2 linked regions of the Homo sapiens genome follow. The protein of the gene in region 1 purifies or fractionates together with the protein of each later gene. This does not show direct contact. Each region holds a gene or a part of one and is shown on either strand. Other genes may lie near its edges.

Region 1 (5,460 bases):
AGGGAAGAGAAAGCAGAGCATACTAGACACCTACAAGGGACAATTAGGGAAGAGAACCAAAGAGAGGAGCTGAGAGGAGTAGGGCAGAAAGCACTGAAGAGGGAGGTAAGAAGATAGTAGGCCTCTGGTGGACACTCATCCACAAAGAGCCGAGTGTCTAGAGTGACCAGCATCACACATGTCTGTGGCTCAGCCTGGGGCTGGGACCAGTACTGGTCAGTAACCAGGTCAGGGACCCAGCCTGGGTAAGGGGTCTTGTATAGGGGTGGAATTGGTGTTCAACCTGTGGCCAAGGTTGGAGGACTAGGGCTTGGCTTGTGGCTGGAATTGCAACTTAGTCTGTATTGGGATTAGGGCTCAATCTATGGCTGGAAATAGAACCAAAGAGAGAATACTTTTTGTTTGAATAGCCTGAGGAGCAAACTGTTACCTGTGTTCACAGGCCCTTGGCATTCTTCAGGGCTCCGACACCTCAGGAGCCTGATACCACACAGACTTGAACATTTCCATCCGTTAGCACTGTTTCTGAAAGCACCTAAGATATCACCAGATTTCTGACCCACAACAGGCTTGAGATCTCACTTAAACTAAGATGAGGACCTTTGTAAGAGACCTTCAAATAGCATCTTGGCAAATGACTATAGGATCCTTTCTAGATTCATAGGCTGTCAGCACCAAACAAAATGAGGCTCAGATAAAGAAGTGGTCTGTCCCAACTCACACAGCCAATAAGTGACAAATCAGGGTCCAGGACCCAGGTCTGTTCTGTTTTTTGTTGTTGTTGTTGTTGTTGTTTTTTAAGAGATGAGGTCTCACCATGTTCCCCAGGCTAGCCTTGAACTCCTGAGCTCAAGGGTTCCTCTCCCTCTCAGCCTCCCAAGTAGCTGGTGACTGGAACTACAGGTGTGTACCACTGTGCCTGGCTTTTGTTCTTTTCTTTAATAAATTTGCTGTGTGACCTTGGGCAAGTCACTCTTCTCTTCTGGGCTTCAATTTAACTCTAAGTATAGGTATATTGATGGGTAGAAGCAGATGGTTTTTGATAGTTTCACCAGCTCTAACATCCAGGAATCTTAACATTCTCCAATGAGTGCCAGTCCACCTCACCCTAATGAGTTGGCTCCAAGTCTTTTTCTCACATGTCTGGAGATCTGTATTTACAAGGCTGTAGGGAAGATGGAATACTGGCAGGACCTGCTGAGAGGTACAGAGCTGAAGGCCAGGGAGGCACAGACGAGGGAGATCAGAGTGGATCAAGTCACCGGGGAGAGTTTGCTTGAAGAGGTGTGACCTAGGCAAGGCCATGAAAGGCTGACAAGATATGGGAAGCAAAGAAGCAGGGTGTGGGTAGGATAACAGTCTGGTTCTAGGACATCTTTCCAAGATGCATCAAGGGCAATGATATCTGGAGAAAAAATTGCAGGGACTAAGAACAAGGTGTCAAGTGGATGGGAGGCAGGCATGGAGGGCATCCTGTGCAAAGTCTCTTTTAAGAAATAGGAGGCAGGTGTTAGGAGGAAACCCTCAGGGTTCAAGAAAGCGGAAGAGACATTTATTAAGTACACAGCATTGTGCTGGGCACTTTAATCCGTTACCTCCTTTAATCCTCCCAAGAACCCTGCAAGTTCTGGATTAGTATCTCTCTTAGACAGATTAGGAAATTGAGGCTCAGAGAAGTTATGACTTACAAAAAGTCACACAGCTCTAAGGGGCACGGCCAGGATTTGAATACAACACTGAGCTAATTCCATTACTTGTTCTATGTAATGGAAAGACTTATGTGAGTCTCATGCTGCTGGCAGGCCAGAGACACTCAGCCTGCTCTCATGAGCAGAAACAAGACCGTAACAAAGTCCAGCACTACCAGCTCCAGAATGTCACGTGCAAAAGAAAGGCATAGATGGAGGAGCTGAGCTGGGGAGAGGAAAGAGCACCAGACTAGGAGTTGGGAACGCAGGGTCTTAATCCCAGGCTGTGCCATGTATGTCCTGGAGAAACCCACTGCTTGAATGAAGCTCCTTTCTTCTGATTAAGAGAATGTGGTTTGGTTTTCCATCCTCACAGCATTCTAAGAGATTGGCTGGGCATGGGGAGGGGGGACCACCAGCCTATTGTGGGCGCAGTGAGGAAACTGAGGCTCAGATTGATGATGTAACCTGTTTGATGTTACACTGTATCTATGTGGAAAAGCATAATTGGGAACTGATTTTTTTTGGAAGCTATCAAGCACCAGTCTTGTGCTAGCTGCTTTACCTCTTTTCTCTAATTTAATCCTATCAACTCTCCTAGGATTTTTACTTCCGCTTTATAGATTAGGAAACCCAGGGTCAGAGAGGTGCACTCTGTGACGGCCTCCCAGCAGCTGGCATTCAGCGGGGCTGGGATGGTGAAGACGCTGGTCTATCTCACTGTGCCCTGCCGCCTCCCAGAGTCTCACACTGCAAATTCAGGGTTCCTTCTAGACAATGTGAGGCAGGGAATAAAGCATGGGATCTGGAACTAGAGTTCTGGCTTTGGATGGCTTACCCGCTCTGTAAGTTTTAGCAAGTTCCTCCTTGCTCAGCCTAAGTTTTCTCATCTGTAAAGTGCGAATGATAATACCCACCTCACTGGAGAGTTGCGAGGATCAAAAGAGAGAAAAGAATGGGAAGGTTATCCTAATTACCTCTCATTTCTGTCCAATGGCTCTTTCCAAAGGCAAAAAGCCTTTTCTTCTCCATCACACTCCTTACCTGTAGCCAGACATACCCGACTCCCTCCTAGGAACAGTAAGTCCTCCCCCAACCCAAAACACAGTGCCCTGCCCTCTCCCCCCGCTGCCCTTGGTGCCCCTCCTCAGGTCCCTGGCAGCAGCCCTCTCTCAGTTCTGAGTTGTGCCGAGTTCCTCCGGTCCCCCGGCCCATACTGGTCCTCACGGAGTCTCCACCCCTCCGGCACAGGTGCTGCCTGGACGGCTGTCAGAAGAGCTTGGGGTCCAGGTCCTGGCGCTGTCCCTCACATTCCAGGGGCCGCATCCCTCCTCTGCCCACCCAGCCTCCCGGTCTACTTACGGGCTCGAGCGTGGGAGTCCAGGGGGAACCAGAGCAGCGCGAGTCCCAGCAAGGAGGAGAGGACCCTCACCTCGGGAACCATCCTTTCCCCAGGGTCAGGCCGCTGGTCCGGGAGCGGAGTCGGGAGGAAGGGAGACGAAAAGGACACGGAGGCACAGGGGCCACAGATCAACCCACAGACCCCAGGAGGTCTGCTGCTAGAGCGGGGTCGGAGAAGGGCCAGGAAGCAGCGGTGGGCAGGAAAGGAGGGCAGGAAGGGAGGTCTAAGGTGGGAAGAAGAGAAAGGTGGAAAGAGAACGCGGGGAAAGGAGGGAGAGATGGAGAGACGAAGGAAGGTCCAGCAGAAGGGAGAGGCGATCAAAGAAAGGGGGAAGGTGAGAGGGAGAGGAGGAGAAAGCAGGGAGAGGACCGGCGTCTGCCGAGCGCGCAGCGCCGGGCGAGGCGCGCGGGACCAGCGGGTGTTGCGGGCGCGCGGGCTAGAGGCGGCCGGCGCCCCCTGCTCGGTGGGCTCGGGGTCGGGCCGCGGGGGCCTGGGGCCCGGCGGGGCGGCGGTCCCAGCAGCGGCGGCGGCGCGGCGGCCGCGGAGGGAGGCTGAGCGCGGGCCGGCTGTGCTCGCCAAGGGCTTCAGGCGCCGCGCTCGGGCGCATTTGTACTTTGCCGCGGGAAGCAGGCAGCCCGGCCTGGCGCTGGCCTAGCGCTGGCGCCTCCTCTGGGGCACCGCGGGCTCGGTGGATTGGCCACCCGAGAAACAGGCCCACTTTTTCCCCTCCTCTCTTGTGCGGGTCTCCGGGACGGACGCTCCAGGCGCGGCGCCGAGTGGAGGCGAGGGGGCTGCGGAGGGGGAAGGGGCCACGCGGGCCACGGGGTTTAACCCCTGACTCCCCGCGACGCCAAGAATGCAGGAGGGCAGAGTTGAGGGAGACCTCAGGTGGAACTTTCAGGTGGGGAAGGCTGAGCTGTCGGGGCTGCGGGTACCGGGAAGGCTCAGGGTAAGGCGCTCGGCGGTGCGTGCCCGGAACTCCGCAGATGGATGGAATCAGAACACTGGCGTTCTTAATTCAGTTTGTGGTCTACAGCACGCCACCGGAGAGTCTGTTTTCCCAGCTTTAAAATGGGCATTTTAAGATCTTAAAATATCTCTACTATCTTCCCACGAGTGTTGCTAAGATGAAATAAGGTAATGAACGTCGAAACACTCACCCCACAAAGAGAAGGGGTCCTAATTCCAGGTGCCTACAATACCAGTGGCCCCTGTCCCCACTCCGTCTGCCCATGCGCCATTCTCAGGAAAGTCAGCCCATAGGGATCCTGTGCCTTCCCCTGGAGGTCTTCCTCTGCTCCCCGCTCCCACTCCCGAATCAAGGCAAGATCTCTCCTTTGCCTTTGCAGGTGAGGCCTGCACTTCTCTGGGAGTGATGGTCACCTTCAGTCATCTTTAGGGAGAGCTGATTGTCAAAGAGTTTTCTTTCCCACCAGAAGGGGAGCTCCCTGAGGACAGGGCCCTGACACCCTCCAGCCCTCAAATGGTGCTCCATCTCTTGTGTTGAATGAACACATGCACTAATAGGACACTAAGAAGAGAATAGCCAGCTCTGGCCAGACCAGAAACACACAAGCTCTGAAATCAAAAGGGCAGAGTCACTGTCCTGGCTCCATCCGTAACTTGTTGGGCCACTTTGAGTAAATACATCTATCCTTGCTTTGGACCTCAACTTTCTGCCCAGCTTCTCTTGAAGAGCTAATGGAGACTCCAAAGAGTGCCAGAGGAGTATGAGGTGGGAAGGGATGTTGAGCCATATCCCACTCTGGTAGGGAATCATATTTCCGGGTTTAAACACTTGGCTGGCTGGCTGTAAAGGTATCTTTCTGGGCCAAGGCTGGGCTCCCCATTGCACTGTGCTTTCAGGGTATTACCCCCAAGATCTCCACCCTCCAAAAGAGAGCAGTAGGAGGAACCAGTGATCCCCAAACTGGCCCTTCCTAGGGCTCTCAGGATCAGGGACAAACATGATCTGTCCAGTGCCCTTCAGGCTTAATTTCTACTCTAATCTGGCCAGTCTCTTCCTTTCCCCTGAGTATTCTTTATTTTAACAGATAGTGCAAGCTTATGCATGTCACCATGCTTCCCTTTTTGCCTTTGCTTCCAGGGATCTCAGAGTTAAATCCTGTGCTGCTTAATTGCATAAACAATCTCATCCCAAGGGTTTGGGACAGTGATCTTTTCCTTTCTCTTTGTTTAAAATGTGCTGTGCACATATATTCATGTCTTAGATGTAAGAAGTGGATTAAGATGGGTTCCCCTACATCCTGCCCATCATACTTCAAAAAAGGCCTCCACCATCTCAGCCCTCCTGTCCATCCCTATTATCCCCAGAGTTGAGGCCAACTTCATTCCTTTTTTTTTTTTTTT
Region 2 (4,932 bases), on another chromosome or scaffold:
ATTCCCATGAGAGAAAAGGGTTTTCTGTTTCCAGGCTACACCACCACTTTGTGTGGGCTGACATTACAACAAGCACTATTGTTCAGCCAGTGCAAGTTTGATATTTAAGCTTCCTTCATGTGCTGGGTTTTGCTGGGTTTTATGCTAGCATTCTAAGAAATTATTGGTTATTGGAACTAGGTGGTGTGGATGAAGAGAACAAATATTTTTATAAAGCTACTCTATTCTTAATTACTGTGGATTTTGGTAATTGACCATGAACCTCTCATTGATAAGAATTGTCTGAAATTACTCTGTAAGCTATAATAAATATTATTCTAGAGCAGGGTCAGCAAGCTTTTCCATAAAGGACCAAGTAGGAAATATTTTAGGCTTTTCATTTCACATAAGGTCTCTGTCGCATATTCTTCATTTTATTTTACAACCCTTTAAAAATTTAAAAACCCATTCTTGGCCATCTGCTATACAAAACAGGCAGCAAGCTGTATGTGGCCTGTGCCATAGTTTGCTGGCCCCAGTCCTAAAATTTTTTACTGTGAGGATTACCAGGTTATTTGTAATAAATAGCTCATAAAATAAAGGGAAGAAACTGGATTATAGAAGCAGTGATTTGTTGTGAGCTTATAGCTTTGGAATCCTGGTATTTTAAAACCAGAAAAATTAACCATCAGTGTTACAGGGTTAGCTGGGAAGTTGACTTTTATAAAATGTACACTTTTTCCCTTAAAATTTAGTTCCACTAACCCATTTAATTCTTCATAGCTTAGTTTTTTCTTTCTAATCATTTCTCAGTTCTTTCTCCTTTTTGAGACAGGGTCTCACTGTCACCCAGGCTAGAGTGCAGTGGCATAATCATGGCTCACTCCAGCCCCAACCCCCCAACCTCCCGCCTTAGCCTCCTGAGTAGTTGGGACTACAGGACTGTGCCGTTATGCCCAGCTAATTAAAAAAAATTTTTTTTTGTAGAGACAGGATCTCACTATGTTACCCAGGCTGGTTTCGAACTCCTGAGCTCAAGTGATTCTCCCACCTCGGCTTCCCAAAGTGCTGGAATTACAGACTTGAGCCTCTGTACTTGGCCATTTCTCAGTTCTGAGAAAATTTTGTGTAGTTCTAAAACCAGCCCAGATGACTAGACAGAAATTCCTGTATAAATTTATATAAAATTCTTGTATAAATTATAATAGATCTCACTTAAGAACTGTATCTCTGTGTAAGATGCATATTACCTTTGTAGAATTTGTTTAAGCAAATTTCAGATTGTGACACATCTGGGAGATAAATTCAACCAAATACCTCTAACACCTCTTAAACAAAATATGGCAACAACTACTTTTTTTTTTTTTTTTCCCAAAGAGACAGAGTCTTGCTCTGTGGCCCAGGCTAGAGTGCAGTGGGATGATCATAGCTCACTGCACACTCTCAAACTCCTGGGCTTAAGTAATCCTCCTGCCCCGGCCTCCTGAGTAGCTAAGACTACAGGTGCACACCACCACACCTGGCTAATTTTTAAATATTTTATAGAGACAGGATTTCTCTATGTCGCTCAGGCTGGTCTCAAACTTCTGGCCTCAAGTGATCCTCCTGGAGCGTCAGCTGCCCGAAGTACTGGGATTATAGGCATGGGCCAATGTGCCCGAGAAAGCCTACATACATATATGAACATGTAATGGGTTTCCCAGTTGTTTTATAGTGATTAGCAAATAATATTTGGGTTGTTATTCAAGGTAATATTCACTTATCTATGCGTTTCTTAGGTTTTTTCATTAAACTTTGTTCATATGTGCTAGTCATGTACGTACTATGACTATATCTGTAGTCACTGGCACATAGTATTTGCTACCTTAGCCTTCAGAGTACTCCAGACTTTTCTCCTAAGAGCCTTTTAAACTTTGTGCGTATATAAGATATGTTTCTTATTGATAAGCATGTTATGTATATTGATTATTTCTGTAAATTTTGTCTATTATTTGTTGCCTTAAAACAATTCCTCTCAGGCAGAGAGAGGACTTGTTCCATAAGTAAAAATTTTCTCATTTCATGTTTCTGGGAGTAGTGTTTAATATCAGCATGAGGGAATGTAGTGGTAATCATAGTTAACTCTGCTTGAGTGGTTATTGTATGCCTAGCATCGTTCTAAGCATTTTACGTGTCTTAACCTATTCAACCCTCATATTAACCTATGAGGTAAGTCATCTTACAGAGAAGCAATTAGGGCCTAGAAGATCCTCTGTGAAAAAAAGTCAAAAGATTATATGAGAAATGCTTTACATAATAGTCCCCCAGTATTCTCATTTGAGGTTCATTTTAACTTATTAAGTGTATCATCAAGCCAGGTGCAGTGGCTCACACCTGTAAGCCCAGCACTTTGGGAAGCTGAGGTGGGCAGATCGCTTGAGCCCAGGAGTTCGAGACCAGCCTGGGCAACATAGCAAAACCCTATCTCTACAAAAAAATAGAAAAATTAGCTGGGTATGGTGGTGTACGCCTGTAGTCTGAACTACTCAGGAGGCTGAAATGGGAGGATCACTTGAGCCCAGGAGGCGGAGTCTGCAGTGAACCAAGACCACACCACCACTCCAGAGCCGAATCCTGTCTCAAAAAATAAGAAAATAAATAGAAGTAAAAACGTACCATCAGTAATCCTACAGTAAAGAAACTCATTTAACTTGGTATAACCCAGTGTTTTCTCTGTGTATTTGACCAATCTTGTTTTCCCTCCAGATAACACATTTAAAACCCATAAAATTGGAGTTATACAAAACATAAGATTTAATAGAAATCGTCATTACAACAATTCAGATTTTTCCAATTCTTGCCTATTGTGGGTGCAGAGCAGATACTGACTAAGCATCTTTCATGAGCTAGGTACAGAAAATTCCCTTTACTCAACTTACAGCAAAAGTTGAATGATATGGGACTCCAATTTGGGGAATTCTAGTTAAGGTACAAGGCGGGAGATATCTGCCAGTTATGCAGCATCCCATTTGTTCCTGCTGGGAAGGATATCATGGAGCTCACAAGGGAAAAGAGGAAGGAGAGGATGCAGCAATTCCTCCAGACTGCCTATGCGGTGAGAAGGCAGAGGCCAGCCAAAAATTTGAGGTGGCTAGGCCGGGCACGGTGGCTCATGCCTGTAATCCCAGCACTTTGGGAGGCCAAGGCGGGCGAATCATCTGAGGTCAGGAGTTCAAGACGAGCCTGACCAACGTGGAGAAACCCCATCTCTATTAAAAATACAAAATTAGCCAGGTATGGTGGCGCATGCCTGTAATCCCAGCTACTCAGGAAGGCTGAGGCAGGAGAATCGCTTGAACCCGGGAGGCGGAGGTTGCGGTGAGCCAAGATCGCGCCACTGCACTCCAGCCTGGGCAACAAGAGTGAAACTCAGTCTCAAAAAAAAAAAAAAAAAAAAAAAAAAAAAAAAAGTGGAGGTGGCTAAAGGCCATTGAGGGCCTAGGGGAATGGTGATATTGTGGAGAGAAGTGGCAGAACAACACCTGATTACATAGATCTAATCAGGACCTTGCCTGCTCCTGTGTTCCGTGCCCTTGTACCTCTGAGTTTGTACAGATTTTCCCCCTCATCCAGATTTCTTTTATGCTCACCCAGATTGTTTTATTTGCTTTTTGAATTTCTCTTGGCGCCTAGAGTAGTGCTTACCTCATAGTAGGCCCTCAATGAATAACAGTAATCTGCAGGAGAATTTAGAGCAAACTTGTCATCCTCTTCCATGGTGGCAGATAGAAAGCCAAAAATAGTGTTAACGAGAGAATAGTAACTTAATACAACGAGGTGGGGGAAATATTAGAAAAAATAGGAACTGTCCTTGTAGCTATGCCATTATTAACATACATATTGAAAGAAAGCACTATCTTTAGGGGAAGCTACTTGGTTGCCTTCCTAAACGTGTCTCAAAGAGTAATACTACCTTGCTGGATTTGCCACAGTCTAGTATCTGACTTTCAGCTTTGCAGACTTGGAAACTTGTTTTTGGTGTCCTTATTTTGTTTTGTTTTCACTAAGAACAGGCCTTTAAAAACGATAAAAACCTGAATTGCTAAGCTGCGTACATAGTTTGGATTATTAGGGGCTGTGAAACAAGCTTGTGGTAGGCAGGTCCATGTGGAAGGCACATGAGCTTGCAAAGCCTGGAGTTGGAACAAGAGGAGATTGTTCTAGAAAATGTTCAAAGTTCTCAGGCTAAAATGTCCTGATGCCATTATGTCCACCATGGAGGTTGTGTTGCAGAGCCGTTGGGCAGTTCAGACTTCATTCACTGACTCCTTTTCTCAAAATTGTCCTTGGCTTGCCTTGGTCGAGTTTTGAGTCAGCATTAAGTATCCCAATAGGTAATAAATAAGAGTACAAAATCAAAAGGCACAACAAGATAAAAATACAGTGAAAAGTAAATCTCCCCACCTTTGCCTTCTAATCACAGTTACTCTCCAAACAGGCAGCCACCATTAACTGTATTATGTATACGTACATTTTTATGCACAAGTGGTTGCATACTATACACAGTGTTCTGCTTTTTACTTGAAAAATTTTGAAGTATTTGCCTATATCAGAGCATATAGAACTATTTTTTTTTTTTGGTGGCTGCTTAGTGTTCTCTTTTAGGGATTATACCTTAATTTTATTTAGCCAGTTCCTATGGATGGACGTTTGTAGTTTCCGATATTTTGCTTTATAAGTGATGCAGCATTGAATATCCGTTGCACATTATTTTGAGCATGCCTGCTAGATATGTTGTCCAATATGGTGACCACTCCTATGTGTAGCTCTTACTAATCTCTGCATTACTGAGAACCTCATGTAAAAGGGTGTGTGTGTGTGTCTTAAATAGAGTCAGATATGCAATACCATAGTTTGTGTGGTTTCTTAAATAGCATGTGAAAAGGACAGAGACTCACACCAACTCTGAGATGA

The links. The genes of interacting proteins can lie anywhere in the genome.
Region 2: the proteins of CHRDL2 (region 1) and RMND5A purify together in Homo sapiens (affinity purification with mass spectrometry; one large-scale study listed by BioGRID and IntAct). This does not show direct contact.

The regions. Positions count from the first base shown.
Region 1 is NC_000011.10:74,727,757-74,733,216, forward strand, and holds the start of CHRDL2 (chordin-like protein 2 isoform 2 precursor), read right to left. Parts: upstream 3,671-5,460; 5' UTR 3,133-3,670; coding exon 3,051-3,132; intron 1-3,050. UniProt on the Homo sapiens protein: May inhibit BMPs activity by blocking their interaction with their receptors. Has a negative regulator effect on the cartilage formation/regeneration from immature mesenchymal cells, by preventing or reducing the rate of matrix accumulation.
Region 2 is NC_000002.12:86,753,780-86,758,711, forward strand, and holds part of RMND5A (E3 ubiquitin-protein transferase RMND5A), read left to right. Parts: intron 1-4,932.